Regions from separate parts of the Homo sapiens genome. Here all the other regions are linked to region 3. The links come from fine-mapping of genetic effects on gene expression. A gene starts in region 3. Each other region holds a variant in brackets. All regions are shown on one strand. Distances are from middle to middle. Region 1 overlaps SV2C (synaptic vesicle glycoprotein 2C). Region 2 overlaps IQGAP2 (IQ motif containing GTPase activating protein 2). Region 3 holds the start of SV2C-AS2 (SV2C antisense RNA 2). Region 4 overlaps SV2C (synaptic vesicle glycoprotein 2C). Region 5 has its middle 40 kb from the start of IQGAP2.

Evidence for each region. PIP is the estimated chance that this variant, and not a neighbour inherited with it, causes the effect.
Region 1: its variant is fine-mapped to the expression of SV2C-AS2 in whole blood (INTERVAL, PIP above 0.99).
Region 2: its variant is fine-mapped to the expression of SV2C-AS2 in whole blood (INTERVAL, PIP above 0.99).
Region 4: its variant is fine-mapped to the expression of SV2C-AS2 in whole blood (INTERVAL, PIP above 0.99).
Region 5: its variant is fine-mapped to the expression of SV2C-AS2 in whole blood (INTERVAL, PIP 0.95).

Annotation. Positions count from the first base shown.
Region 1 is chr5:76,199,119-76,204,224 of GRCh38, reverse strand. All of the region lies in intron 3 of SV2C (synaptic vesicle glycoprotein 2C), which reads right to left. Among named protein-coding and RNA genes, the nearest start is that of SV2C-AS2, 110 kb to the left of the region's middle. The variant C/T (reference allele first, on the strand shown) is at 2,478.
Region 2 is chr5:76,476,183-76,481,288 of GRCh38, reverse strand. The region is part of intron 2 of IQGAP2 (IQ motif containing GTPase activating protein 2); the gene reads right to left. Among named protein-coding and RNA genes, the nearest start is that of IQGAP2, 75 kb to the right of the region's middle. The variant T/C (reference allele first, on the strand shown) is at 2,054.
Region 3 is chr5:76,308,583-76,313,688 of GRCh38, reverse strand. It overlaps SV2C-AS2 (SV2C antisense RNA 2), which reads left to right and starts at 2,060. Exons shown (of 4, transcript XR_001742750.2): 1 at 2,060-2,505. All of the region lies in intron 12 of SV2C (synaptic vesicle glycoprotein 2C), which reads right to left.
Region 4 is chr5:76,295,591-76,300,696 of GRCh38, reverse strand. SV2C (synaptic vesicle glycoprotein 2C) reads right to left here. Exons shown (of 13, transcript NM_014979.4): 9 at 4,755-4,919; 10 at 1,770-1,903. SV2C-AS2 (SV2C antisense RNA 2) reads left to right here. Exons shown (of 4, transcript XR_001742750.2): 2 at 2,512-2,594; 3 at 4,853-4,937. Among named protein-coding and RNA genes, the nearest start is that of SV2C-AS2, 13 kb to the left of the region's middle. RefSeq lists enhancers at 3,621-4,503, 4,483-5,106. The variant T/A (reference allele first, on the strand shown) is at 2,065.
Region 5 is chr5:76,360,289-76,365,394 of GRCh38, reverse strand. No RefSeq gene overlaps it. Among named protein-coding and RNA genes, the nearest start is that of IQGAP2, 40 kb to the left of the region's middle. The variant A/G (reference allele first, on the strand shown) is at 2,659.

The sequences.
Region 1 (5,106 bases), 110 kb after region 3:
GCAAATTGCAAAGCAATTCAGAGCCAATTTATTATGTTATAAATTGGACCCAGAAATAAGGGATTAGAGCAGCAGTCCAAAGATGAACCTTTCAGTCTCTTCCACTTTATGAAAGTAAATAGAGTATCACAGACCTTGGGGAGATTGCTCAGAGGCTTAGATGAAAGAGCACACACCTAACACTCTTTCTGAATAGGCTAGGTTGGCACAGAAAATAAGGTTGCTATATAGATCAGAAGGCACATGTTTGCTATCAGTGATAAAGATAGAAATGGGAGAAAAACACATACTGGTAACCTAACTCATCATCAAATCAAGAACAAGAATTTCCTTTGCCCAGTGGCAATGCCAAAGGATGGATGATTTGGGTAGCTTTAGTCTTCAATTTCCAAAGCCACAATTTGAAAAATAATATTCTTCGATATATGAAGTTGTCATTTTCTAAATATTATGTAAACTATGAATAGAATAATGAGTAGAAAATTTGGTTATTTAAAAAATATTGATCTTTAAGTATATAATTTGTGGGGAAAACTGCATTGCCAAGAAAACAGCTGCAATTCAACTCCCTTAGCCCTGGTTTGCTATCAGATTGGTGGCCTAACCCCCTAAAACTGTGGAGGTCTATGCATCCACAGTAGCAGACTTAGTACCACTGAGGGAAGTGGGGTAGTCATGGATCAAGACTTTAATACTGTCTTGAAAAAAAATTAGCTATTGATAGAGTTGGAAGAATGCCTTCCCATAGCATCTAAAGGTGCCATGAATAAAGATGGTGATGATCATTATGATGTTCTATAATTAATGATAGAACATGCAGATGTATCTAGCCTCTTGCTGTATACATTTCCTCATCCATTCCTGCACTCATCCTCCCACCCACCCTTCATTTACCCATTATCCACCCATTATCCCTCTATCCACCCCCTCACCCAATCAAACTCTGGGCCAGGCACATCACCAGTTGTTGGAGGTGCAGGCATGAAGCACACAAATTCCTGCTGTGGGCTCCAGAGAGTGAATTCTAAAGAGTGCATATGGCTAATTTTTCACAATTATACACTGTGGGTCTGGAAGATCTTTTGTTCTGTTCCTTCTCCTTTGTGATCAATAGTACCTTTGCTAAAGGGTATACTGGGAAACAAAATGTGTCCAAAAGGTCAGCCTTTTTGTTGGAAAGTAAAAAGCATTGCCTAAGACAGTGCTTTCCAATAGAAAATGTGAGCCACGTATGTAATTTTAAATTTTTCCAGAAGAGACATTAAAACAAAACAATCACGTAAAGTTAATTTTAATATATAGTCATTTAACCCAATATATGTAAAATATTATTTTAACGTGTAATCAATGTAAAATTATTGAGATATTTTGCATTCTTTTATATGTTCTAGGTCTTTGAAATCCACTGCTATGTATTTTATACCTACAACACATCTCAACTTGGACTAGTCACATTTCAAGTGCTTGGTAGCTACATGAAGCTAGTGGTTACCATGTTGGACAACGCAGCTCTAAGAAAACACTGACACACTGTTTACAATTTGGGTTTTATATTATTTTTGGATTAAAGATAATCTTGACTGTTGCCTCATTTTACATATTGGGGAAGGTCTTTCCCTTCTGATGCTCTGGGGCCAGAGATATTTTTGGACTGATCTGTTCAAACACGTATGAGCACATATCATGTATACGTTGTGCCATATGAAATCAGAGACATTTCTGGTTGAGTCTGAAGCACAGCACAGCCTGATGGTTATGAGCATGGGCCCTGGAGCCAGACTGCCTGGGTATGAAACCTGATTACATTACTTATTGTGTGACCTCAGATAGGAACTTAACCTCTCTGTACTTCAACTTCCTCATTTATGACATACAGTTAAGATATATGAATAATGAATAGCATCTTTCTCATCGGGTCACTGATGAGAGTCAATATTTACTAATATAAAGTGCTGAACACAGCATCTCTCACGCGGCAAGCACTATAGAGGTGTTTGATAAAATACATTTTAAAAGTCTTAAACAATTTTAAATGACTGCATTTTTCCAATATGATTATTTTAAGAAAAAGACTACTTTGAAGGGAAAAACCTCATAGCTCAGAATCAGACCAAAATTCAGAAGACTGGGTGTCTGTTGAATATTTGGAAGCAATAATCAATCCGTGCCTCAATTTTCTTTTTCTTTCTTTTTTTTTTTTTTTTTTTTTGAGATGGAGTCTCGCTCTGTCGCCCAGGCTGGAGTGCAGTGGCGCGAGCTCAGCTCACTGCAAGCTCCGCCTCCCAGGTTCGCCATTCTCCTGCCTCAGCCTCCCGAGTGGCTGGGACTACAGGCGCCTGCCACCACGCCTGGCTAATTTTTTGTATTTTTAGTAGAGACGGGGTTTCACCATGTTAGCCAGGATGGTCTCGATCTCCTGACCTCGTGATCCGCCCACCTCAGCCTCCCAAAGTGCTGGGATTACAGGCATGAGCCAC[C/T]GTACCCGGCCTCTGTGCCTCAATTTTCTAATAAAAAAGGCACACAATTTTTACATGACAAATTATTTAAAACAATTGTGGAAATAAATGGGATGCTACATATAAAGCATTCTGAATAATTCCAGTTAATGGTGATGATTTCTACAAAGCCAAGGTATTCTTACTATAACTCAATACAGCTAATGAATGAATATTGCAAATAGCTATGAAGTACACATTTGGTAGGCTCTATTCACAGAGGAAGAAATTACTATTCTTTCATTTACGATATACAGACACGTTGAAATTTCATTTTAATTTCTGTTGCTATTATATTTTTCTCCTGACCTTCCTGCTTAGCAGTGCCAGGCCCTCAGTGAGAAGCTCCCGACTCTGATATTGCCTAGCATCCAAAGTACTATCATTCCCATAATTAACAGTGACTGGCTACAAATAATTTAATTCTGGGTCAAATGAAAATGAATCAATGGTGCCAACTCCATTTCCCATCTTTCTAATTTTCTATAACAAAAGAGGGGAGGAAAGTGTCTGTTTCTTGGTGTGAGATTCGTTTAGGAAAGTGATAGACAGATGAGTAATTGGTGATGTCCTAGTCCTCCTTCCCACACAACGCTGTTGTCCCCAGGCAGGAAAATCATTCATTGTACCGAATAAACATTTAAAGTCATATACAATATGTCAGCTGGACATATTTGTGTTTCTAAGAAGATATGCTCATGACTTGGTTTGATGAATTAAGAGGAAAGCACATTTGGAGACAATAAAAATATAAACCCAAGTAGATCTCAGTTTAAAACAAGAGCTTGGCCAGGTGCAGCAGCTCATGCCTGCAATCCCAGCACTTTGGAAAGCCAAGGCTAGGAGGATTACTTGAATCCAGGAGTTTGAAACCAGCCTTGGCAACATAGGGAGACCTTGTTTGTACAAAACATTTTTAAAAGTTAGCTGGGTGTGGTGGCATGCATCTGTGGTCCCAGCTACTCAGGATGCTGAGGTAGGAGGATCACTTGAGCCCAGGAGGTCAAGGCTGCAGTGAGCCATGATCGCACCACTGCATTCCAGCCTGGGTGACAGAGTGAGATCCCATCTCAAAAAACAAAATAAAACAAAAAATAAAATAAAAAAGAACTCCTTCCAGTCCCCTTTATTTGCAGAGACAGTGCTGCTAATGATGCTTCAGCAATGAAATAAGACACAGCAACTGGAAATCTGTAGCATTTTTGATAAAATCAACACACAGACAGGTAAACCTTGGATTCAGAATGTACATTTTACTTATTTACAGAGTTGCAAGTTTAAAATGACTTTAATTGCAATTTAAGTCCTAGCTGAGTTATTCCTGGTTCCACCACTGCACCTCAATCTGCAAAATGAAAAGTTTGGACTCTCTGAACTAGAACTTCTCTTTGTTCTAAAATTCCTAGTAAATGGAGCTGATGGACAGGCCCTGTACCAATTAAATGTGGGGATTCTGTACCAATGTGGGAATTCTGCCAGCTGCTGAGTAGGTCTGTTCCAATTATGCAGTCCAGAACTGTGGAATCAGGCACGGGATGGATTCAGTGCCTGACTCACTGGGCCCACTGTGAAACAGACCTGAGCTAAAACACCATTGATTACCTGCCTTCCATAAGCCCCTGCTCTGACTGGTTGACCACAGTGACATTTTGTGTCTCCTGGAATTAGTGTCAGTTTAGAGCCAGTGTCCACAAGCCCTGAGAAGACTGATTATTTCCTTTCTCCCATGCACACTCATCCTGGTAAAAGGCCTTCAGTCCCTTTGGGGAAGCTGGGAGAAAGACTAACAGTATAAATATTTAGCTGGGTACAAAGATCCTTCTTCAAGGAGGCCCAGCCTCCCCTTCATTCAGTTGGTTCTGGGTCTGTAAAGCAGCTCCAGTCTGGGAATGATGGAGGGGACATGACTCAAGTTAGATTTTCATTCACTAGTCATATAAGTTTTCTACTTATACAGATCAAGTAAGAATTGAGTAGGCTTCCTATCTATTTCACTTCATGATTAACTAGCCAATGACACAGATGGCTGCAAGTCAGACTATGCTGGTTGCTGCTTGAACTCCACTGTCTTTTACAATACCCATGCCCACTCTGCCATGGGCGATTAAGCAATGTTGAACAAGACGACAGTCCCAGCCCTTTGGAATTTACATGCTGGTGGAGGAGAGAAAGAAGAACATAAGAAGTAAATATTTTCAGGCATCAGTTGTAAGTGCTGCCAAGGAGACAAAACAGGAAACTCTCTGAGACCCACTGGGTGTGTGGTCTCAGGAAACGCCTCTGGGAAGCTGTGAGTGGGAGGGCCCTGGGAGAAGAAGCTTCAAAGCAGAAAGGATGGCAAGTACTGTACTCCTAGGAAATGCGTGGAGTGCGGGGGCCTATGTGCACCAGAGGCCCACAAAAGAAACATTCCCAACATTTTGGAATGTTATTTCACGTAGTTTTTCTCAATTTAAAAACTGGACCAGATATGGTTGGAGGGAGTTGTTTAAGTAGATAAAACATGGTCTTTTATTTAAGGTCTCTAGGATGAGAATCTTAATTCTCTGGCTTAAGTTTTAATAAAGAAAGTTTAAATAAAAAAAAGAATATATAAAACTTCAGCTGCTTC
Region 2 (5,106 bases), 170 kb before region 3:
ACTGTGGCTAGTAGAAAAGGTAAAATTATACATGTGGCTCCTGTTATATTTCTATATAGAGGACAGCCCCGGTAGAGACAATATTGTCAGTTCCCATATAAGGCTGCTGCTATGGCCTGAATGTGTGCCCCCAAATTCATATGTTGAAACTTCATCACCATTGTGATAGCATTAAGAGGTGGATCCTTTAGGAGATGATTAAGTCATGAGGGCAGAGCTCTCATGAATGGGATTAGTGACCTTATAAAAGGGCTGGAGGGAACTAGGTAGGGCCTTATTGACCTTCCTTCCATCACTTCCACCAACGGAGGATGCAGCTACAAGATGCCATCTTGGAAACAGATAACCAGCTGGTATGGGACACCAAACCCACCAGTACTTTGATCTTGGACATTCAGTCTCCAGAACTGCGAGAAACAAATTTCTGTTCTTTATAAGTTACTCAGTCTCAGGTACTCTGTTATAGGGGCACAAGAGACTAAGACAGCTGTGTGCCCAGGGATGCACAAAAAATTCTCTCACATCCTCAGTCAAGGTACACCATTATTTCATTTACATGACAACTCACTTCTTTCCCCCTGCAAAATCCCCTAGGAACTGTAGCAGACATGGTAAGAATTGACACATTGGGGCTGTATTTGGGGAGACAAGATAACATACAGAACAATAATATGGAAGTTGCCTATGTATATGAGACACAAAAACACTGAGCTTCCTCCATCTGCTATTCTGTTATACATGACACAGAAGTGATATGGACAGTAAGTGCTAGGGGCGTTCAGAAGAAAAATTACCACTATTTGGGTGACCAAGAAATCTGCAGAGAAAAGATAAGCTCTGGGTTCATCTATGAAGACCAGGTAGACTTTAAAAGGAGTAAAATGATAATTGAGGGAGAAAGGAATAAGAAAACTATTCCAGAGAGAGGGGATTAGCAAAAGTATGGCTGCGAGAAAGAAGGGCCATGTTTGAGAGAAGAGGACCTCCTCTCCACCCAGTCCCTTGAGCTCAGCTCCATCCAGAACAGAGGGTATGTGAAATATGTGCCTTATCCCTCAGAGGACACATATTTGCTTCTCCCTGAGCAGGCTGACATTAATCTGAGGCACACAGACACCCCACTGAGTGAAGTTCTGAGGCAGAGAAGTCAAAGTCTCTGGTGACACTCCCTGCCCAGCCCCCACCTACACAAACAGCTCTGTGGGTGCGTAAAGTGGCACAAATGTCCCTTCAATTCTCTTCCTCCCACACTTAAACCATATCGCTCCTCCCTTCTCCTTGACTGAGCCTGACAACTTCTCCTTTGTTCTTTGTCATCATCCAGCCTGGGAGACACATCAGGAGTAAGAAAATAATACTCCATCTACTTCTTCCTTCTATCAGTCTCTCAAAACCAACACACACACACAGTTCTACACCACACACATGAGTTTATTTATAATTTGACTTAGCCACAAGACTTCTGAATATCATTTAAGTCTGCTGAACCTTTGTTAATTCATCCTTGAACCTGTCTTGTTGGTGTGTTTCAGATTGCAGGCAGTTCTGATGCATAAAAAGCCTACTTAAATCTATTTGTGCAGAACACATCGTCAGGGGTTGAGGGGCTCCATTTGCACAGAGGTCCTTTAAAATCCCTATTTCATAATGTCATCAGCACAGAGCAGCTGCTAGACAAACTATCCCACTGAAATGGAAGGGTGAGGAGCACCCGGTCCTATGTATTCAAAATTGTGAGAGGGATGGCACGTGCTCCCCTAAATGTCTGTGAGTAACAGAGGATATGTGGAATTCAGCCATTTCCACCACACAACACCTTGCTGCCAAGCACAGCCAGCTGGTCTGTGTTCCCCAAAGCGATCCATGCAATTGAGAATGAAAATCATTCAAAGGCTATCCAACAGAATCAGCGTCCCTCACAAAGCCTCTCTAGACAAAAGCACAGGGACAAGAAGCCTAAGCCAGAACTTCTGAGATCACAACACTCACTCAGGCAAAGCAACCTAGCACCCATTCTGCACAGGCCCCGTGCAAGGCAGTGGGGTACAGCGAG[T/C]GAGAATGTCTTCCTCAGGGAGCTCCCTGACTGCTAAGAGAGGACAACACATGGAGAAAGCTACCATAAAGCATACTATGCACAGTGGAAGCAGGACAGGGACCTGAGGCATAACTGAGGAGAGAACGATCAACCATGGCGGGAAGGCGGAGGCGGTGTAAAAGGGGTGAGTATGGGCTCCTGGGCCAGGCTCAGGAGGTGCCCTTCCATGATCCTGCAGGGAAAACGGAGCCTATGAAAGTTGTGAGCAGGGAAAGGCCTAACTAAACACCTCCTGGTTTCTCCCAGATGGTACAATAAACCCCAAGTATGAACTAGGTACAGAAAATTAAAATTAATGTTCTTCCTCCCAGAGATGCCTAGGAAGCAGCACCTAGTGCGGTCATGTATCACTTAATGAGGGAAATGTGTTCTGAGAAGTATGTCATTAGGTGATTCCGTCATTGCGCAAACATCACAGAGTGCACTTAAACAAACCTAGATGGTACAGCCTTCTACACACCTAGGATATATGGCCTATTGCTCCTGGGCTACACACCCATACAGCATGTGACTATACTCAGTACTGTAGGCAGTTGTAGCATGGTGGTATTTGTGTATCTAAACATAAAAAGGGGGCCCGGCCTGTAGCTGGGATTACATGTGCGCACAACCACGCCTGGCTCACGCCTGTAATCCCAACACTTTGGGAGGCCAAGGTGGGCGGATCACTTGAGGACAGGACTTGTGTCACTGTCCTTTAGGATAGTGAATGTGAAGCCCTAGGACATTACCGTACACTACTGTAGACTTTATAAACATCGTACACTTAGGGTATGCTAAATTATTTTTTTTCTTGAGGCGGAGTCTCACTGTCTCCTAGGCTGAAGTGCAGTGGCACGATCTCGGCTCACTGCAACCTCCACCTCCTGGGTTCAAGTGATTCTCCTTCCTCAGCCTCCCAAGTAGCTGGGATTATAGGTATGCACCACCACGCCTGGCTAATTTTTGTATTTTTAGTAGAGATAGGGGTTTTGCCATGTTGGCCAGGCTGGTCTCAAACTCTTGGCCTCAGGTGATCCACCCGCCTTGGCCTCCCAAAGTGCTGGGATTACAGGCGTGAGCCACCACACCATTGCACTCCAGCCTGGGTGACAAGAGCGAAACTCCATCTCAAAAAAAGAAAAAGAAAGGTTCTTTCTTCAATAATAAATTAACCCTAGCTTACTGTAACTTTTTTACTTTATAAACTTTTGAATTTTAACTTTTTGACTCATTAGCTTAACACAAATACATTTTACTGCTGTACAAAAATATTTTTCCCTTTATGTCCTTATTCTATAAGCTTTTTTCTATTTTTAACTTTTTAATTTTTTTTTTTACTTTTTAAACTTTTTTGCTATAAACTAAGACACAAACACACATATTAGCAAGATCCCACATGAGTCAGGATCATCAATATCACTGTCTTCCACCTCCACATCTTGTCCCACTGAAAGGTCTGCATGGAGCTGTTATCTCCTATGATAACAATGCCTTCTCCTCCAGTGCCTCCAAAAGGGCCTGCCTGGGGCCATTTTACAATTTGCTTTTTATTTTAAGTAGAGAAAGTTCACTCTAAAAATAACATAAAAACATAGTAAATACATAAAGCAGTAACATAAGTATTACCATTATGAAGTATTATGTACTGTACACATTTGTATGCGCTATACTTTCATATGACTGGCAGCACAGTAGGTTTATACCAGCATCACCACAAACACGTGAGTAATGCTTTGATTGGGAATTTTTCAGCCCCATTATAATCTTATGGGATATTGTTATGCAGAACATAACTATTACCAAAACATGCTCAAGATAGTGTAAAGCACTTTATTCAAATGCGGCTGTAATGTTTTATTTTGTTTTGATTTGAGACAGGGTATCACTCTTTCACACAGGATGGAGTGCAGTGGTGTGATCACTGTGCACTGCAGCCTCTACCTCCCAGGCTCAGGTGATCCTCCTACCTCAGCCTCCCAAGTAGCTGAAACTACAGGCGTGCACCACCATGCCTGGTTAATTTTTTTTTTTGTATTTTGTGCAGAGACAGGGTTTCACCATGTTGCCCAGGCTGGTCTCAAACTCCTGGGCTGAGGCAATCTACCCATCTTGGCCTCCCAAAGTCCTGGGATTATAGCCACCATGCCTGACCTGTAATGTTTTAACGGATCATAAAATCAACACAGTGGTTCATGACCAGCATTTTCTTAGAAAATGAATTAGAACAGAACAGAATAGTAAACATAAGAGGCTGTTGCATATAGTAGAAGTTAAGTGTTGCTCGGTGAATCTTTAGTTAGACACACACGCCCACTTATTACACATATCACACAGCTACCTGGGTCATGATATAAAATTATTTTACTCTGGGTCATAAGGTTTTAGTCACTTGCTGAAAGTGTATGTCACAGCTAATGAATTAGTAATAAATCAGTAGCACAATTAGTAAATCAGTAACACAAGATCTCTAATGGGCCCCTACCACAGTTACATAAATCTATGCCTGTTTCTGCAGTGGATTTGGTTTCCTAGTAAACTCTAGTAAAAGTCCTGACCCCCCCAGAACTCATATAAAGTCATCTGTCTCCATCCTGCTAACCAGCCCTCCTTAAACATACCCCAAGCCTACTCACTCCTTCCAATGAGCCTCTGAACTCCTGACCCGTTGTAATTCTCCTATATTATCACTTTTTGTTTACACTTTCTCTACCTACTTGTCTAATGAAAAGCTGGCTTTTGCTTCAAAATCCCACCCCTCATAAACCCACTCCAGGGGTGGTTGTTTGCCAAATTTCCTTGACTCCCAGGACAAAGAGAGGATAGTCATCACTTTCCCAAATAAACGTTTCTCCCAGGCCACATCCTGTCCATCACCTCACTTCTCAGGGCTTCACTCTTCCCTCTCACCCCTAACCTTGCCACTCATTTCTTGACCTCCAGGACTTTTCCTTTCTTGCCACAATTGCTGCCTTCCTCCCAGGCCTGCCTCTGCTGGGTGGCTTCAAGAAGGTGGATGACCTTGGTAACAC
Region 3 (5,106 bases):
CCACAATTAAAGGGGCATTCCCTTGTTTAGCTGGCCCACAAGTCTGGTGGCCCTGCTGTCAGCATATCAAGCACATGGCCCTTTCATGCAAGGGCTTGCTCAGTACCCAAGGACAGCGAGATGGACTTCCTTGGAGCTCAAAAACAAACTTTGTGACTGTTTTTGTGCTAGTACACTTGGCAGGATTTGCTTCCATTGTAATATATTGCCTGATGGCAAGGTTGTGGGAGCAGGAAGCATATATTCCCCACCCCCTTCACCCTCTACTTCTAACTACCAGAGACAAAATGAATCTGACTTTTGCTGGATAGCCAAAGCATAAACATATATAATATAATGATAAGGCGTATAAGGAAAAATCAAGCAGAGCAGAGGGCCAGGGATGGAGTGGATTACATAGGTTGGTTAGTCGCGATAGCTGAAAGATTCCTCTGTACCAAAATCTTCACAAATAAGTGAGATATTTATCTTTATATTAGACGTAGAATGTATTCAAGAAAGAATGAATGAAATTGCCATTACAGAATACCAGATGACGACAGTGAAGAGAATTCTAGAGCTAGAAAGGCCCTGAGATGCTATTTATTTCATACTCCTCATTTAAATCTCAAACAATCCAGGCCCAGCTAGGCTGAGTGGTGTCCCTGAGGTCGCACAGCTGGTCAGTAAGAGATCCAAGATGACAGACCTTCGGAACTGAAGAATGGGGAGGAAACAAGAGAACTCTGTCAAAACAAGGACAGTCCTAAGGGAAGGGCTTGGGTTGCTTAATTCTGGGAAAATGTTTTGATTTTAGCTCATCAAGGAAGAGACCAATCCCACTGCACTGGGTGATGGCAGCAGCTGCCCAGGACTCTCAGGGATCGGCAGGTGTGAACAATCAGATCCTCAAATCCTTTCTGACCTCATGTCTGAAACTGTGCATGCATAAGGGGGCATAAGGGGGAAAGAAAAGGGAAGAAGGTAGGCAGAGAAAGGCAGGAACATGCGGCCAAACGACACCATGAGACAGGCTTGCCTGGCCCTGGGAGTCTGTGCAGAGTTGCAGGACGGCCCTGAGAGCGTGGGCTGCATCTCACAAGGTGTGCGCTCCTGGCCCCGAGCGCCACGGAGGAGGGGTAAAGATGGCCCCTAATGGCTGGGCACGCTGGCTCATGTCTGTAATCCCAGCACGTTGGGAGGCCGAGGCAGGCAGATCACTTGAGGTCAGGAGTTCGAGACCAGCCTGGCCAACACGGTGAAACCCCGTCTCTATTAAAAATACAAAAATTAGCTGGGAGTGGTGGAAGGCACCTATAATCCCAGTTACTCAGGAGGCCGAGGCAGGAGAATTGCTTGAATCTGGGAAGCAGAGATTGCAGTGAGTGGAGATTGCGTCACTGCACTCCAGCCTGGGTGACAGAGTGAGACCCTGTCCCCCCCCCCAAAAAAAAAAAGTGGCCCCTGAGCCATAAGCACACAGGAAATGTGAGCAGGGGACTTGGCCACAGCCACATAGTGGCAGCAGAAAGTTAACACCTGGACGCAGAGAAACATAAAGGCCAAAACCTAGAACTGGAATGAGCTGGAACAGGCCTACACCGCGGGAGCTACATTTATGACTTTTGAGAGATTTACAACTTTCACAAAGCAGGGAGAGAAAAGTAGGGACCCTGATGGATGGAAAAAATCCATTTCAACCTGTCATTACATATACTTTCATTTTGAAGACTTCAAGAGATGAGGGAAAATTGACTTATTTTTCCCAGTTAGGGTATTGAGGGAAGCTGACCAGCACAGACTAAACCCAAAAAATGAAATGCATCTTCTGTTGGTGTTCTCAGTTCTACCGCAAAGAGGGTTGAAAGTAATTTTGCTGGTGGCAGGGACTGGGGACGGAGAAATGAGGGAAAAGGAAGCTCCCCCACACCAGTATGTTAGATGGTTGGGGCTCCTTTCAGATTTACGGCAAGCTGGAAAATCCATTCTATGTCTGGCTCATGTCACATTCATATTTCATGTCTATTAGAAGAATCTCATGCCACATCAATTGTTTGTGATCTACATTACATATAATAGGCTCTCTGCTTATCTTTGACACAGGTGAGGGGCTGATGTAGAAACTGTTAAAAGACTATACAATGACTTGTATATTCAATAATGGCTCAAACTTCAAAGGTCTATCATTTTGCCCTGCTCTTCATTTCTTTCCTCATAATGCTTCTCAAAGCAATCTTGTCTTTCCAGCCTCACAATCAAGGACAAATTCCTGAATGCAACATTTGCTTTTCCGTCTTCCCGCTTCACCTCACTCATCCCTGCAGAAGTACAAGTATTCCTGGCTTCTTCAAGTCTACGCCTAAGAATTAAGAGCCTTGGGGAGAAGGGCACTGCATCGACCACTGCATCTCAATCATTGTGGCAGACGTACCACAGCACTGGGAAGCTGGCCTTGGCAAGAATCTCAGGCTATTACTACAGAGTTGGGAAGAAGGTTTAGGATCAAGATAGAGGTGACTGACCAAGGTGAGTGCATGAGCAGAGAGGTGCCTTCAACTTCCACTGCAGACAGTTCTGATATCTTGCCTCTACCTGAGGTGAGTTCTAGCCCTGGGCAAGTCAGTCCAATGAATGTCATTGAGAACCAGCTGCAAACTACTACTGCCCTACTGACCTAAGCACAGAGGTTATAGGGAAGTCTAACTTGCAAAGCCTTCTCTCAATGTCATACACCATTTTTGAAGATCAAGACATCTTAATACTTTGACCACTTGCTTCCAGGCTAGTTTTTTTGTATTCCACTCTGCCAGCCTGAGTTTCTAGCTCACTGAACTCTTGTCTCCTGGCCTGGTATCCTAACTCTGGTGTCTGTTATTTCTTAGTCCAGATCTGTGTTACCTCTGGATTTTCTTACGTTGATGGATTTACCCCCAGACTCCAACTCTTGCCTCTCAGACATGTTATTTCTATGGAGGCCTTTGTTTTCTGTTTCCTTTGACTTGAACTATTCCAGGTCTCTCTCTTAGACATATTTTCAGAATCTAACCACTTTCTCACCACCTCCATTGGCACCATTACCTCTTGCCACATTTCTTGCTGTGGACTTCATAAGTCAGTTCATGTCACTCATCTGCCCCCAAACCCCACATTGGATTTCATTTTACTCAGCAAGAAGACCAAAGCCCTTTTATTGTCCACTCTGACCCCATGGCTTCTTACCCTCTACCTTGGTCATTCTGCTCCAGCCAGACAAGCTTTGCCTCTCTTCCAACTGGTCTCTCACACTCCCACCTCAGGACCTTTGCACCTGCTGTTGCCTCTGCTGTGAATACACTCTCTCCAGATGTCTGCCTGGGTCTTTGCTCAAATGTCAGCTTTACAGTCACATCCCCCTAGACCATTCTATTTACAGTTGTAACTCTCCTTACCCCAGCATTCTCTATGCTCCACGTAGCTTTATTTTTCTCTACAGCACTTAGCACCATCCAATATACTACATCTACTTTACTTATCTGTTTGTTGGACTGTCTTCCTCAAACTATTATAGAATATAAGCTCTATCAAGGCAAAGCTTTCTGTCTGTTTTGTTCACTGCTGTCTCCCAATGACTAAAATAGTTCCTGGCACAGGATATGCATTCCATAATCATTTTTTTTTTTTGAATGAAATAGTGAATGACCTCTCTATCCCCAGCTCAGGTATCTTTCTGGCATCCAAACAAAAATATTCAAATGCCAATCGGACAGCCCCAGGTTGATGTAAAAACTCAACATGTCCAAAATGGAACTTATTACCTTCTTGACCACAGCCCAGACCCACTGTCCCTCCTGTGTCCCAGCCTCAAAATGCCATTGTGCTCCTGCAGGTGGTTTTTAAAATTAAAAAACATAAACAAAACCTGCCATCTCCATTCACTCAACTGTACACGCAGAAACTGGAATCATCTTTCTTTGACAACCTCTTTTCTTCCCCCTAACATCTAATCAAGCACCAAGCTTTGTTGAATGTATCCCTAAATATCTGTGAACATGTTGAGTGTTGACTTTTCCCCTTTCCAACCTACATTTTTCTTTCTTTCTTTCTGTTTTTTTTTTTTTTTTTTTTTTTTTTGAGATGGAGTTTCGCTCTGTCGCCCAGGCTGGAGCACAGTGGTGCGATCTCGGCTCACTGCAAGCTCCGCCTCCCGGGTTCACGCCATTCTCCTGCCTCAGCCTCCCGAGTGGCTGGGACTACAGGCGCCAGCCACGATGCCTGGCTAATTTTTTGTATTTTTAGTAGAGACGGGGTTTCACCTTGTTAGCCAGGATGGTCTCGATCTCCTGACCTCGTAATCCGCCTGCCTTGGCCTCCCAAAGTGCTGGGATTACAGACGTGAGCCACCGTGCCCGGCCTCCAACCTACAACTTAAGTGTCTTAACCAGCCTCCCTGCCTTCTTTCTGGCCATTAGAGGGAGCTCTCTAAAGGCCAAGAATGATCTTGTCATTCTCTGTAAGACAGCTCAAAGTCTCCCCGTCCCCACACAATAAGGCAATGTGAAAGAGTCTTCATGACTTGTTCTTTGAGTAACTCTTTTACTTCCAGAGCTTGTTAGCTGGTATTTGCTCTAACTGAAATGTTCTTTCCATCTTTTTGACTGGTTATCACCTACTAGATCTCAATTAAATGGAACTTCTTTCAAGAAAACCTCTCTGATGCTCTGAGCATCATGCACTTCCCATGTAATAACCCTGACCACTATATTACAACTGAAGTTTGCTTGTGCTTATGAGAATAAAGACCACAACTGATTTACTCACGGTTGTATCATAGGTGCTCAAAAAAATAGTTGTTGAGTAAATAAACAAACAGTATTAAAATTCACACCGAGATGGAATAGATATACTTTTCTTATTCTTCTTGATAAGTACAACAAAATATCCTGCACATTATATATAAAACAAACAGAACAAGACTGAAAGAGGAAAAAGGCAGAACTGCTAGGGAGCTTGGGGATGGGGAGTTCCCTGCGTTTGCCTTCTGCTCCATAGATCTCAGACTTGGAATCGAACAAGTTGCCAACCCAGAAATGCCAATAGGCACAGAAAAAGAAAAGCCACAACCAAAGCCTGCTCTCTCTAGCCCAAGGA
Region 4 (5,106 bases), 13 kb after region 3:
GCTCTTACCAGGCATGCACCAGTATAAGAAAGCCTATGGAGGATTCGGAGAGGAAACCAGTATTGTAAATTCCTTGAGGGCTTTCAGGCCTATGCTAGCTTGACTTTTTGGGTCTTCTGGCCAAAGCATAGGATCTAGTCTGGGTCTTCACATCATAAAGTAGGTGAATGATGAGATACCTTTGCTGAATAAAGGAATACATTAAATTAAGGGGTCCAGTTATCTTCTGATTTCCTATGGTCGGCCATTGCTAATTATATTACTTGCTTACTCCTTTACAATATTACTATGTCCTAATTATCATGTTACATAAAGACTATCATTATAGTACTAATAGTGTCCATACTACAATTATAAAAACAATTTGTTTCAAAATGTGCATGGGCTGGGTGTGGTGCCTCATGCCTGTAATCCCAGTGCTTTGGGAGGATGAGGCAGGAGGATTGCTTGAGCCAGGAGTTCAAGACTAGCTTGGACAACATAGTGAGACACCATCTCTACAAAAATAATAATAATAATAATAATAATAATAATAATAATTTTTTATTTGAGGCCGCAGTGAGCTGTGATTGCGCCACTGTACTCCAGCCTGGATGACAGAGCAAGACCCTGTCTCTAAGGAAAAAAAAGTGCAAGAGTCAGCCTTATCATTGCCATTTTATGAGACTAGAGGGCACAGAGAAGGAACAAGTCTTTCCTGAGGCTGAATTTATAATTTAAAGTCTATGTGCATGAATCTACTGAGGAACAAGAGTCAGCCTCATCTGAAGGTCACCAGCATTCATTGCTAATCTTTTCTTGAATTTGAAACCATCCAAGAAGAGTTGCAGATGGTGGTGGTTTCTGCTAAAAGGCTGTGAGAATTGAAACTATCTTCCTTGCTGATCAAGATCTGACAAAATGTTCGTCTTCTGAGGTTTAATGGGTTAGAAGACAGGTAGATAGCATTGCTCAAAAAACAAAAAACAGAAAGACACCTGACCTCATTCTTCTTTGGAGCTAGGCAGAGCCCTTGTCTGAGCACTAAGAAGGCAGGTCTGGCAACAGGGCAAATGCTGATGCTCCTGCCAATGCCACGCTGTTATGCTGGATTCATTTTATAGGACACACAGACCAATGTTTGGGAGTGGGAAAGTGGAAGGCACAGGCTTTGAAATCAAATAAATCTGGGTTCAAACATCTGTTATTACTAGTTCTATAATTGTGGACAAATTACTTAACTTTCCTAAGCCTCAGCTACTGTGAAAACTAAATGAGATAATGAATGTCTAATGACCTAGAGTAGAAAACAGTATATAGGTGTTCAATCAATGCTTGTTTGCCTTCCTTTTTTTTCCCCCTGGGGAGTTTAAAATACCCCATTATATGGATTTGGCCAAAATATATATGTATCTGAGCATAGCCACATGTTGTCTATCTCTGTTGGCTATAGAGTTGAGGCATTTAAACAAACACCAGATTTTGAACCCAGGATTATCAAAACAAATAAACTACAGGTTAGGTCTTTGCTTTAAAAATTTATTCATCAAAGGATTTTTTTGTTGTTGTTGTTGCCAACTTTTGAACTTTGGCAAGCTCCATTTGCACTAAATCTGACAAAGACAAACAATACAAGCCAACCTTTGATCCAACCTGATTTAGAGAACTTGTTCCATTTATTCTTTAATATCCACTTCCCGCATAAGCCTCTGCCCACATTATCACATGGTTATCACAGTGGGCCCTTTGGAGAGGCCTCAGGTAGAGGCAGTACTAAGTAGCACACCTACCTGTGTTGTCAAAAACAGTGTCAATAAATGTGCAGTTCTTGAAGTAGGTGTTCACTGAAGTTACATCCTCAAAGGTGCAGGACTTAAAAACAGAGTCTTTGAAAGTTACAGATTTGAACTTGACCCCTATGAATCTGCCCAACACACAGAAAAATTCATATCAATCAATGACTGTGTCCATCAAAGTTCAAAGCTAAGTCAAATAGTTTTAGAGATGGAATGCCCCACTATGGACTGTCTTAATTATAAAGAACACAGAGTTCTTGATTTTCTTAGCTCTCTGCTTTTTCCCCTT[T/A]TTCTCATCCAGGCTGACCTTTGGCTATCTTATTGCTTACCAATATTATTTTTCACCAGGAAAAGAGATGACACTCCTAACTTCCCTTAGCTTTTTGTAATGTTGGTAAAAAGTTTTGTGGGGTATGCAACTGAAGATAGTTTGGGGATTACCTGGGGCTATTCTTTAGGTTTTAATCCTATCGTCTCTTCATGTATATCTTTATTTGAATATTCTCTATTTGGGGTTAATGGCTCTAACTTAAGGATGTCCTCCTACCCGATCTTTTAATAACTTTATTTTTCCCTAGCTGAAAATCCAAGTCTTCTTCATTCTAGTGTAGGGACCTGTAATTATCCTGAAGAGAGAGCATGAGAATTCTGTTTCATTTATGTGAGGAATAACTGACTTGGGGTTGAAGAAACTCATAGGTGACGCTCATTTCCAGGATAATTTTTCTTCTCACAGCCAACAGATAGTCCTTGAACCAAAAGGAATTATGAGAACTCTGCTTATTTTTGGAAACATGAAGAATGATGAAACCTGTTCAGGTATATTTTTGGGTATTATAAGGGGGAATTCTACGTGGTAAAAATGGTAACAGTCATAATGATAATAACATCTTAGAAGAGTCCATGATCCAGGCCTTATCAGCATTGATAAGGACTCCCAGCAGACACAGATAAATATTCATTAACGTGTCCTGGTACTTTATTAAGAGACTATGAATGTACACTTAGCCAGTCACTGAGAGGAAAATGCTTGTTCTCCTCGGGAAGGAGTTGTTATGTCAATACCACTCTTATTAGGGGCAGAAAGGGACTGATCCTTCTAGGTAAGTAGGTTGATTTAAAAGCAGTTTACTAACTATTGAGTACTTTCAAATTTATTCTCTCCCTAATACCCAATTACGTGTGTTGGTTCAAAATGCACATGGCCTCACAGACCAATCAGCTTAAAAAAGAAATCATTCCCATGGTACATTACCTGGAAATAATAATAATGATCTCGTTTCAATCCCCACTCCAGGGACCCAGAGTAAAAACATCTAAATGCACCAAAAGAGACTAAATAATGGCACATCTTTAAAAAGTTATCAATTTTTTCTGTCATGGAACTGAATTTGGAAAAGGGAATGAATCAGTTTTATTTTTTGAATGGATAATTCAGAGAGTACACATGGTGCACAATTCGAAAGGTTGAAAATGGAAAAAGTCAGTCTTTTCCCATCCATCCCCAGGCCACAAGTTCCTCTGCCCAGAATAACCATTGTTGTCAGTTTCTTGTGTGCTCCTCCAGGAGCATTCTGTGTCTAAAGTACACCTGCTTTATCTCCTTCTAGTCTACCTTGGAGGTTATTCCGTATCAGTATATAAAGAGTTGCCATTTTATGATGCTGAATAAAAAAGCTATTTTTTAAAAAATTTCGTTAATGGTATTTCAAATTTTCCTGAAGGACAAAAAAATTGTTTCTATCATCTTTTAAAATAAATGTGTAACATATGTTTTACAAAAACTGTAATACTATTAAAATTAGTAATCATTATATTGCTAATGTAAAAAAGTTCTAAGCAGTGACTGAGTATCCAGTTTAGAACTTTAACATATATTACTAAAAATATGACTGTCAGAGACACAAACATATATTAGAAATTTCTAATGGAGTAACAATACTTTTGAAAGTCAGTTTTCACCCTGGCATCACAGAGGACTTGACACTAAGCTTTCTGTGAAATGCTAAGTGCAGATTCAAGTCAGTATTTTATGTGGGAGAGTGAAGGTGATCCCACTTGGCTTGGATGATGATTAGTTCCTTCATTGAATTGCTAATTTGAACAATTACCTCCTAGTTAGTAACCCTCTTTTCCATTACATAGATCATAAGCATCCCACTGAATTCTTTTTCATCTTTCTGAACTGGTTTTTGCCCTGGGGAACTTTGATTATTTTAGAGTTTTATTTTATCACTTTTGAAATTGGGACAACTTCCTAAGAATGATGTAAACTATCATGAACTTACACTGGCAATTATTTGTTCAGGCAACAAAAATACTTGGATATAAACAAGTACTTGGTCTACTCTTTTCCATCTCTAAAAGAATGACCCAGGACCACCTCCCTGAGTCAGTTCTCTCTTGTCATCAAGAAGTATTTCAGATCCCATAAAGGAGACCCTTCCGTCTTTCAAAGCCCTTTACTTTGGGGAATGATTCCTGTTCTCTAATTGAAACTCTTCCTGATGCAATTTAACCTCAATTCTGGATTCAGCGTATTGGGAAGGATGAATTCTGAAAAGTGGCTCTGTTTCTCAGGAATAGAAGACTCATATAATCACATTTCAGATTTCTTCTGTGAATTAAATAATCCTATAGCCTGTCTTATTTTCCCATACTCTTCACTCTTCTCTTCCTTCCATTATTTTTGTTGCTCTCCAACATTGCTCTAAATTTTCCTTCCACACCAGTCAAGTCCACTACCTAATAAATATGAAGCAACTTAGCTGCAAAAATAGTTTTAAGTGAAGTAATGGATACATTTGTACCTTTTATTTAAAGCCTATTAAGAAGTATTGAAATTCATCATGAAAATGACTAAATGTACAAACTAAAACAAACAAACAAAAAACTATGCCTGTTTCAGTGCAGGGAAAGCTAAGAAGAAATAAGTTTTTGTGAATAGGTAGCAAATTAAATTATTTCAAGTTTCTAGACCTGCCATTGTCGTATTCCATTCCAGTATGAATCTGATTTTCCATTGTAAAGTTAATAGTGAAATTTGCATATTTATCTCTCTCCACATTTCTGGTTAGCAATGCATATTCATCGGACTGCAGAGGTTTAATGACATCAGGGAACCAAACGGATAATCCATAGTACCTGCAAAGACAAAGAAATGTGAGTTTGTAAAGGCACTAGCATGCCAGAGGCAATGAGCAACTCCCTGATGTTTTCAGACTGGTAATAGTTCCCGGAGAATGGCTGGCTCCCTATAACATTATGAGTAATTCATCATACAGCAATCCATGTGTCCCTCTCCCCCAGCATTAATCTGCAAAAATCAAGC
Region 5 (5,106 bases), 52 kb before region 3:
TCCTAGCACCAGCAGCTCAGGTCACCTGTTTCTTTTATCTTGGAATCAGGACAAATCATGAGTTTTGATGACTTGAAACTTGAACTCTGGATATTTAAAGGAGCCTTCAGTGTTTTTAAACCAAATGATCACATTAGGTTAAGAAAATTACTGAATTTGCTGTACATCAACCTTGGGGGTAAGCTAGAGCTATGTATTTTATATGATAGATTTGATTCCATTAAAAATAAGACAATTGGTCAGAAATAAAATTACACCTTAAGTTGTTAGTGAAAAGGGGCTTTTAAATGAATCTTACTTTTCCCCAGATTAAACTATAATTTGAAAATGGATTCATTCATTTTATTTGCCCATTCACTAGGTCAAGCATTGATTGGGTATCTCTGAGTACTTGATGGGTGTACAGAGATGACCTAAAAAGGCTTGATTCTTGGCCAGGCGTGGTGGCTCACGCCTATAATCCCAGCACTTTGGGAGGCCCAGGGGGGTGAATCACCTGAGGTCAGGAGTTCAAAACCAGCCTGGCCAACATGGCGAAACCCCGTCTGTACTAAAAATACAAAAATTAGCCAGGCATGGCGGCGGGTGCCTGTAGTCCCAGCTACTCAGGAGGCTGAGGCACAAGAATCGCTTGAACCTGGGAGGCAGAGGTTGCAGTGAGCCGAGATCACACCACTGCACTCCAGCCTGGATGACAGAGCAAGACCCTGTCTCAAAAAAAAATAAACAACAGTTTGATTCTTTTATTTTCAATTATTACTTTTTTTTCTTTTTTAATAGAGATGAGGTCTCACTATGTTGCCCAGGCTGGTGTTGAACTCCTGGGCTCCAACAATCCTCCTGCCTCAACTTCCCAAAGTGCTGAAATTAGAGGCACACCAACCTGGCAGCTTGATTCTTTTGAAATCAATTTTTATTGATTTGCAGTTGTCCGTGGTTTCTAGTGACACTATAAGTTTCTTGGCTTTTTATTCAGCTGTGAAGGCAGTGTAATGGAAAGAACATTGAGTTAGTCTGGGGTGTTTTCCAAGACCAACCACCAATTCTCTGTGAACATTAAATGAATATCCTAAAATTCAATTCAATTCTGACAATAACTACTGTCAACTGAGAATGACAAGGCCTATACATGTGGAAAGGAGAGTTTTCTTTCTCATAAAGCGTTGCAGCCTGCAGAGTGACAGGCTGGGAAGTGTAGGTGCTGGCCAGAAGCCAGAAACAGATGCGTCAAGGGAGTGGCAAAGGGCACATGAATTTATACCGAGCGGGCTGGCCGAATATGCATATTCAATAAGCTGTAGCAGGAGTTGTGAATATTTATGAAAGGAGAAACATGAGCTTCATGCCCCTTCGTGTGTCCCGTGTACAAAAACGGTGGTGATAGCATGATCTGAGGGTAGAGTTTTCAGCCCTCTGACCCCAAAAGATGAAGCAGAGAGCACAGAAACCCCTACTGCACATTCTTTGTAGACTGGCCAGAACCGCTCCGTGGTCAGTGGCCTCTTATCATGGGGGGGCAGCCTCACATGGTTGGTTGATACGAGAGCCTTTTGAAAGGGCTGGTTTCTGTTAAGCCCTTAGGAAAGAAAGCCTTATCATGCTTAGCTAGGGAGAGGGCATAATAAGGTGTGTCCAACCTCCTATCCCACCATGACACAGAACTCAATTTTCAAGGTTACTATGGGGTCTCTTTAACCAAGAGAGGGTCTGTTTAGTCCGTTGGGCAGTTTAGGATTTTATTTTTATTTCTTGCTGCCCAAAGCTATTACTAGCATAGACACCACAGGTTAAGGACTCAGTCCCACAAGGCTCCTCCCACTTCACATCAGTTACAAGTCTCAGGTTCCGGCACTTCTGGCTGTCCTTGCTACAAATCAAGAGCTACTGTAACCGCCCCCCGCCACCCCCCACCCGATTCGATAATTTGAAATAATGGCTCACAGAACTCAGGGATACCTTATTTATGTTGATCAGTTTGTTATAAAGGCTGCAACTCAGGAAGTCAAATGGAAGAGATGCATAGGGCGAGGTATGGGGATCAGGGAAAGCCCTCTCCAGACACACCACCCTCCTAGCACCTCAATGTATTCACCAACCCAGAAGAGCATCAACTCTCATTGCTCAAGAGTTGTTTGTTTTTCTCCTTGAGACGGAGTCTTACTCTGTTGCCCAGGCTGGAGTGCAGTGGCACTATCTTGGCTCACTGCAACCGCCACCTCCCGGGTTCAAGCAATTCTCCTGCCTCAGCCTCCTGAGTAGCTGGGATTACAGGCGAGCGCCACCACGCCCCACTAATTTTTTGTATTTTTAGTAGAGATGGGTTTCATGAGCGTCCGTGTGAAGAGACCACCAAACAGGCTTTGTGTGAGCAACATGGCTGTTTATTTCACCTGGGTGCAGGCGGGCTGAGTCCAAAAAGAGTCAGCGAAGGGAGATAAGGGTGGGGCCGTTTTATAGGATTTGGGCAGGTAAAGGAAAATTATAGTCAAAGGGGGTTTGTTCTCTGGCAGGCAGGAGTGGGGGTCGCAAGGTGCTCAGTGGGGGTGTTTTTTGAGCCAGGATGAGCCAGGAAAAGGACTTTCACAAGGTAATGTCATCACGTAAGGCAAGGACCGGCCATTTACACTTTTGTGGTGGAATGTCATCAGTTAAGGCGGG[A/G]CAGGGCATATTCACTTCTTTTGTGATTCTTCAGTTACTTCAGGCCATCTGGGCGTATACGTGCAAGTCACAGGGGACGTGATGGCTTGGCTTGGGCTCAGAGGCCTGACATTCCTGCCTTCTTATATTAATAAGAAAAATAAAACAAAATAGTGTTGAAGTGTTGGGGTGGCGAAAATTTTTGGGGGGTGATATGGAGAGAGAATGGGCGATGTTTCTCAGGGCTGCTTCAAGCGGGGTTAGGGGCAGTGTGGGAACCTAGAGTGGGAGAGATTAAGCTGAAGGGAGGTCTTATGGTAAGGGGTGATTTTGTGGGGATGTTAGAAGAAACATTTGTCATATAGAATGATTGGTGATGGCCTGGATATGGTTTTGGATGAATTGAGAAACTAAATGGAATAACAGAAGGAGAAAAACAGGTATAAAAGGTCTAAGAATTGGGACGACTCAGGATATCTGATTAGAGAGTGCCTAAGGAGATTCAGCATAGTCCTGCCAGCAAAGATTATTTATTTACTTCAAGAGTTAAGAGTGGCAGTTTGGGGATAGCACCAGGAGATATCAGCTGTGATGGCTTGGAAAAACAGTGTAAACCGGCAGTGTAAACAAGAGCAGGGCATGTATGAGTAGTTGAGAACGGTGAATAGGAGTATGACTAGACAGAAGATAGTAGGGATGACAAGTTTTCGGGGGCACAGTCTAAGTTGGTCTGGTGTCTGGAATGAGACTGGGGCCTAATAAAAACGAGCGTCTACACAGGAGCTCAAATGGGCTGTACCCTGTAGCATTCCGAGGACAGGCCTGAATTCTGAGAAGGGAAAGTGGTAACAGTATTGTCCGGTCCTTTTTGGTGGCTGAGCTTGGTGAGGTGTGTTTTTAAAAGACCTTTAGTCCATTCTACTTTTCTTGAAGATGGAGGACCGTAAGGGATATAAAGGTTTCACTGAATACTAAGAGCCTGAAAAACTGCTTAGCTGATTTGACTAATAAAGGCTCATCTGTTTTCAGACTGTATTGAGGTGGGAAGGCTAAACTGAGGAATTATGTCCGACAGAACAGAAGAAATGACTGTGGTGGCCTTCTCAGACCCTGTAGGAAAGGCCTCTACCTATCCAGTGAAAGTATCTACCTAGACTAAGAGGTATTTTAGTTATCTGACTCAGGGCATGTTGAGTAAAGCTAATTTGCCAGTCCTGGATGGGGCAAATCCTCGAGCTTGATGGGTAGGGAAGGGAGGGGACCTGAATAATCCCTGAGGAGTAGTAGAATAGCAGATGGAACACTGAGAAGTTATTTCCTTGAGGATAGATTTCCACGATGGAAAGGAAATGAGAGGTTCTAAGAGGCGGGCTAGTGGCTTGTACTATAGTATAACCTGCCTTTGCTGGTGTGTGGCGATTAGGCCTGGTGGACCATCAATAAATCAAGCGTGATCAGGGTGAGGAACAGGAAAGAAGGAAATATGGGGAAATGGGGTGAATATCAGGTGGATCAGAGAGATACAGTCATGGGGGTCAGGTGTGGTATCAGGAATAATGTGGGAGGCCAGATTGAAGTCCGGGCCAGGAACAATGGTAATTGTGAGTACAGCTGAAGGAGCCGGGGAGCAGAAAGTATATGCGTCAGGTATGAGGAAGAAAATAGATTTTGGAAGTTATGAGAACTGTAGAGAGTGAGTTGAGCATAGATTGTGATTTTGAGGGCCTCTGAAAGTATTAATGCAGTGGCAGCCGCTACACGCAGACATGAGGGCTAGGCTAAAACAGTAAGGTCAAGTTGTTTGGACAGAAAGGCTACAGGGTGTGGTCCTGGCTCTTGTGTAAGAATTCTGACCACACTAACCATGCCTAGGAAGGAAAGGAGTTGTTTTGTAGAAGGTGCTGGGGTTTGAGAGATCAGTGGGACACGATTGGCAGAGAGAGCACGTGTGTTTTTATGAGAATTATGCCGAGATAGGTAACAGATGAGGAAGAAATTTGGGCTTGATTGAAGTAATGGGGGCTGTCTGTGAAGCTTTGCGGCAGTACAGCCTAGGTAATTTGCTGAGCTTGATGGGTGTCAGGGTCAGTCCAAGTGAAAGCGAAGAGAGGCTGGGATTAAGGGTGCAAAGGAATAGTAAAGAAAGCATGTTTGAGATCCAGAACAGAATAATGGGTTGTAGAGGCAGGTATTGAGGATAGGAGAGTATATGGGTTTGGCACCACGGGGTGGATAGGCAAAACAATTTGGTTGATAAGGCGCAGATCCTGAACTAACTTGTAAGGCTTGTCTGGTTTTAGGACAGGTAAAATGGGGGAATTGTAAGGAGAGTTTATAGGCTTTAAAAGGCCATGCTGTAGCAGGCGAGTGATAACAGTCTTTAATCTTTTTAAAGCGTGCTGCGGGATGGGATATCGGTGTTGAGTGGGGTAAGGGTGATTAGGTTTTAATGAGATGGTAAGGGGTGCA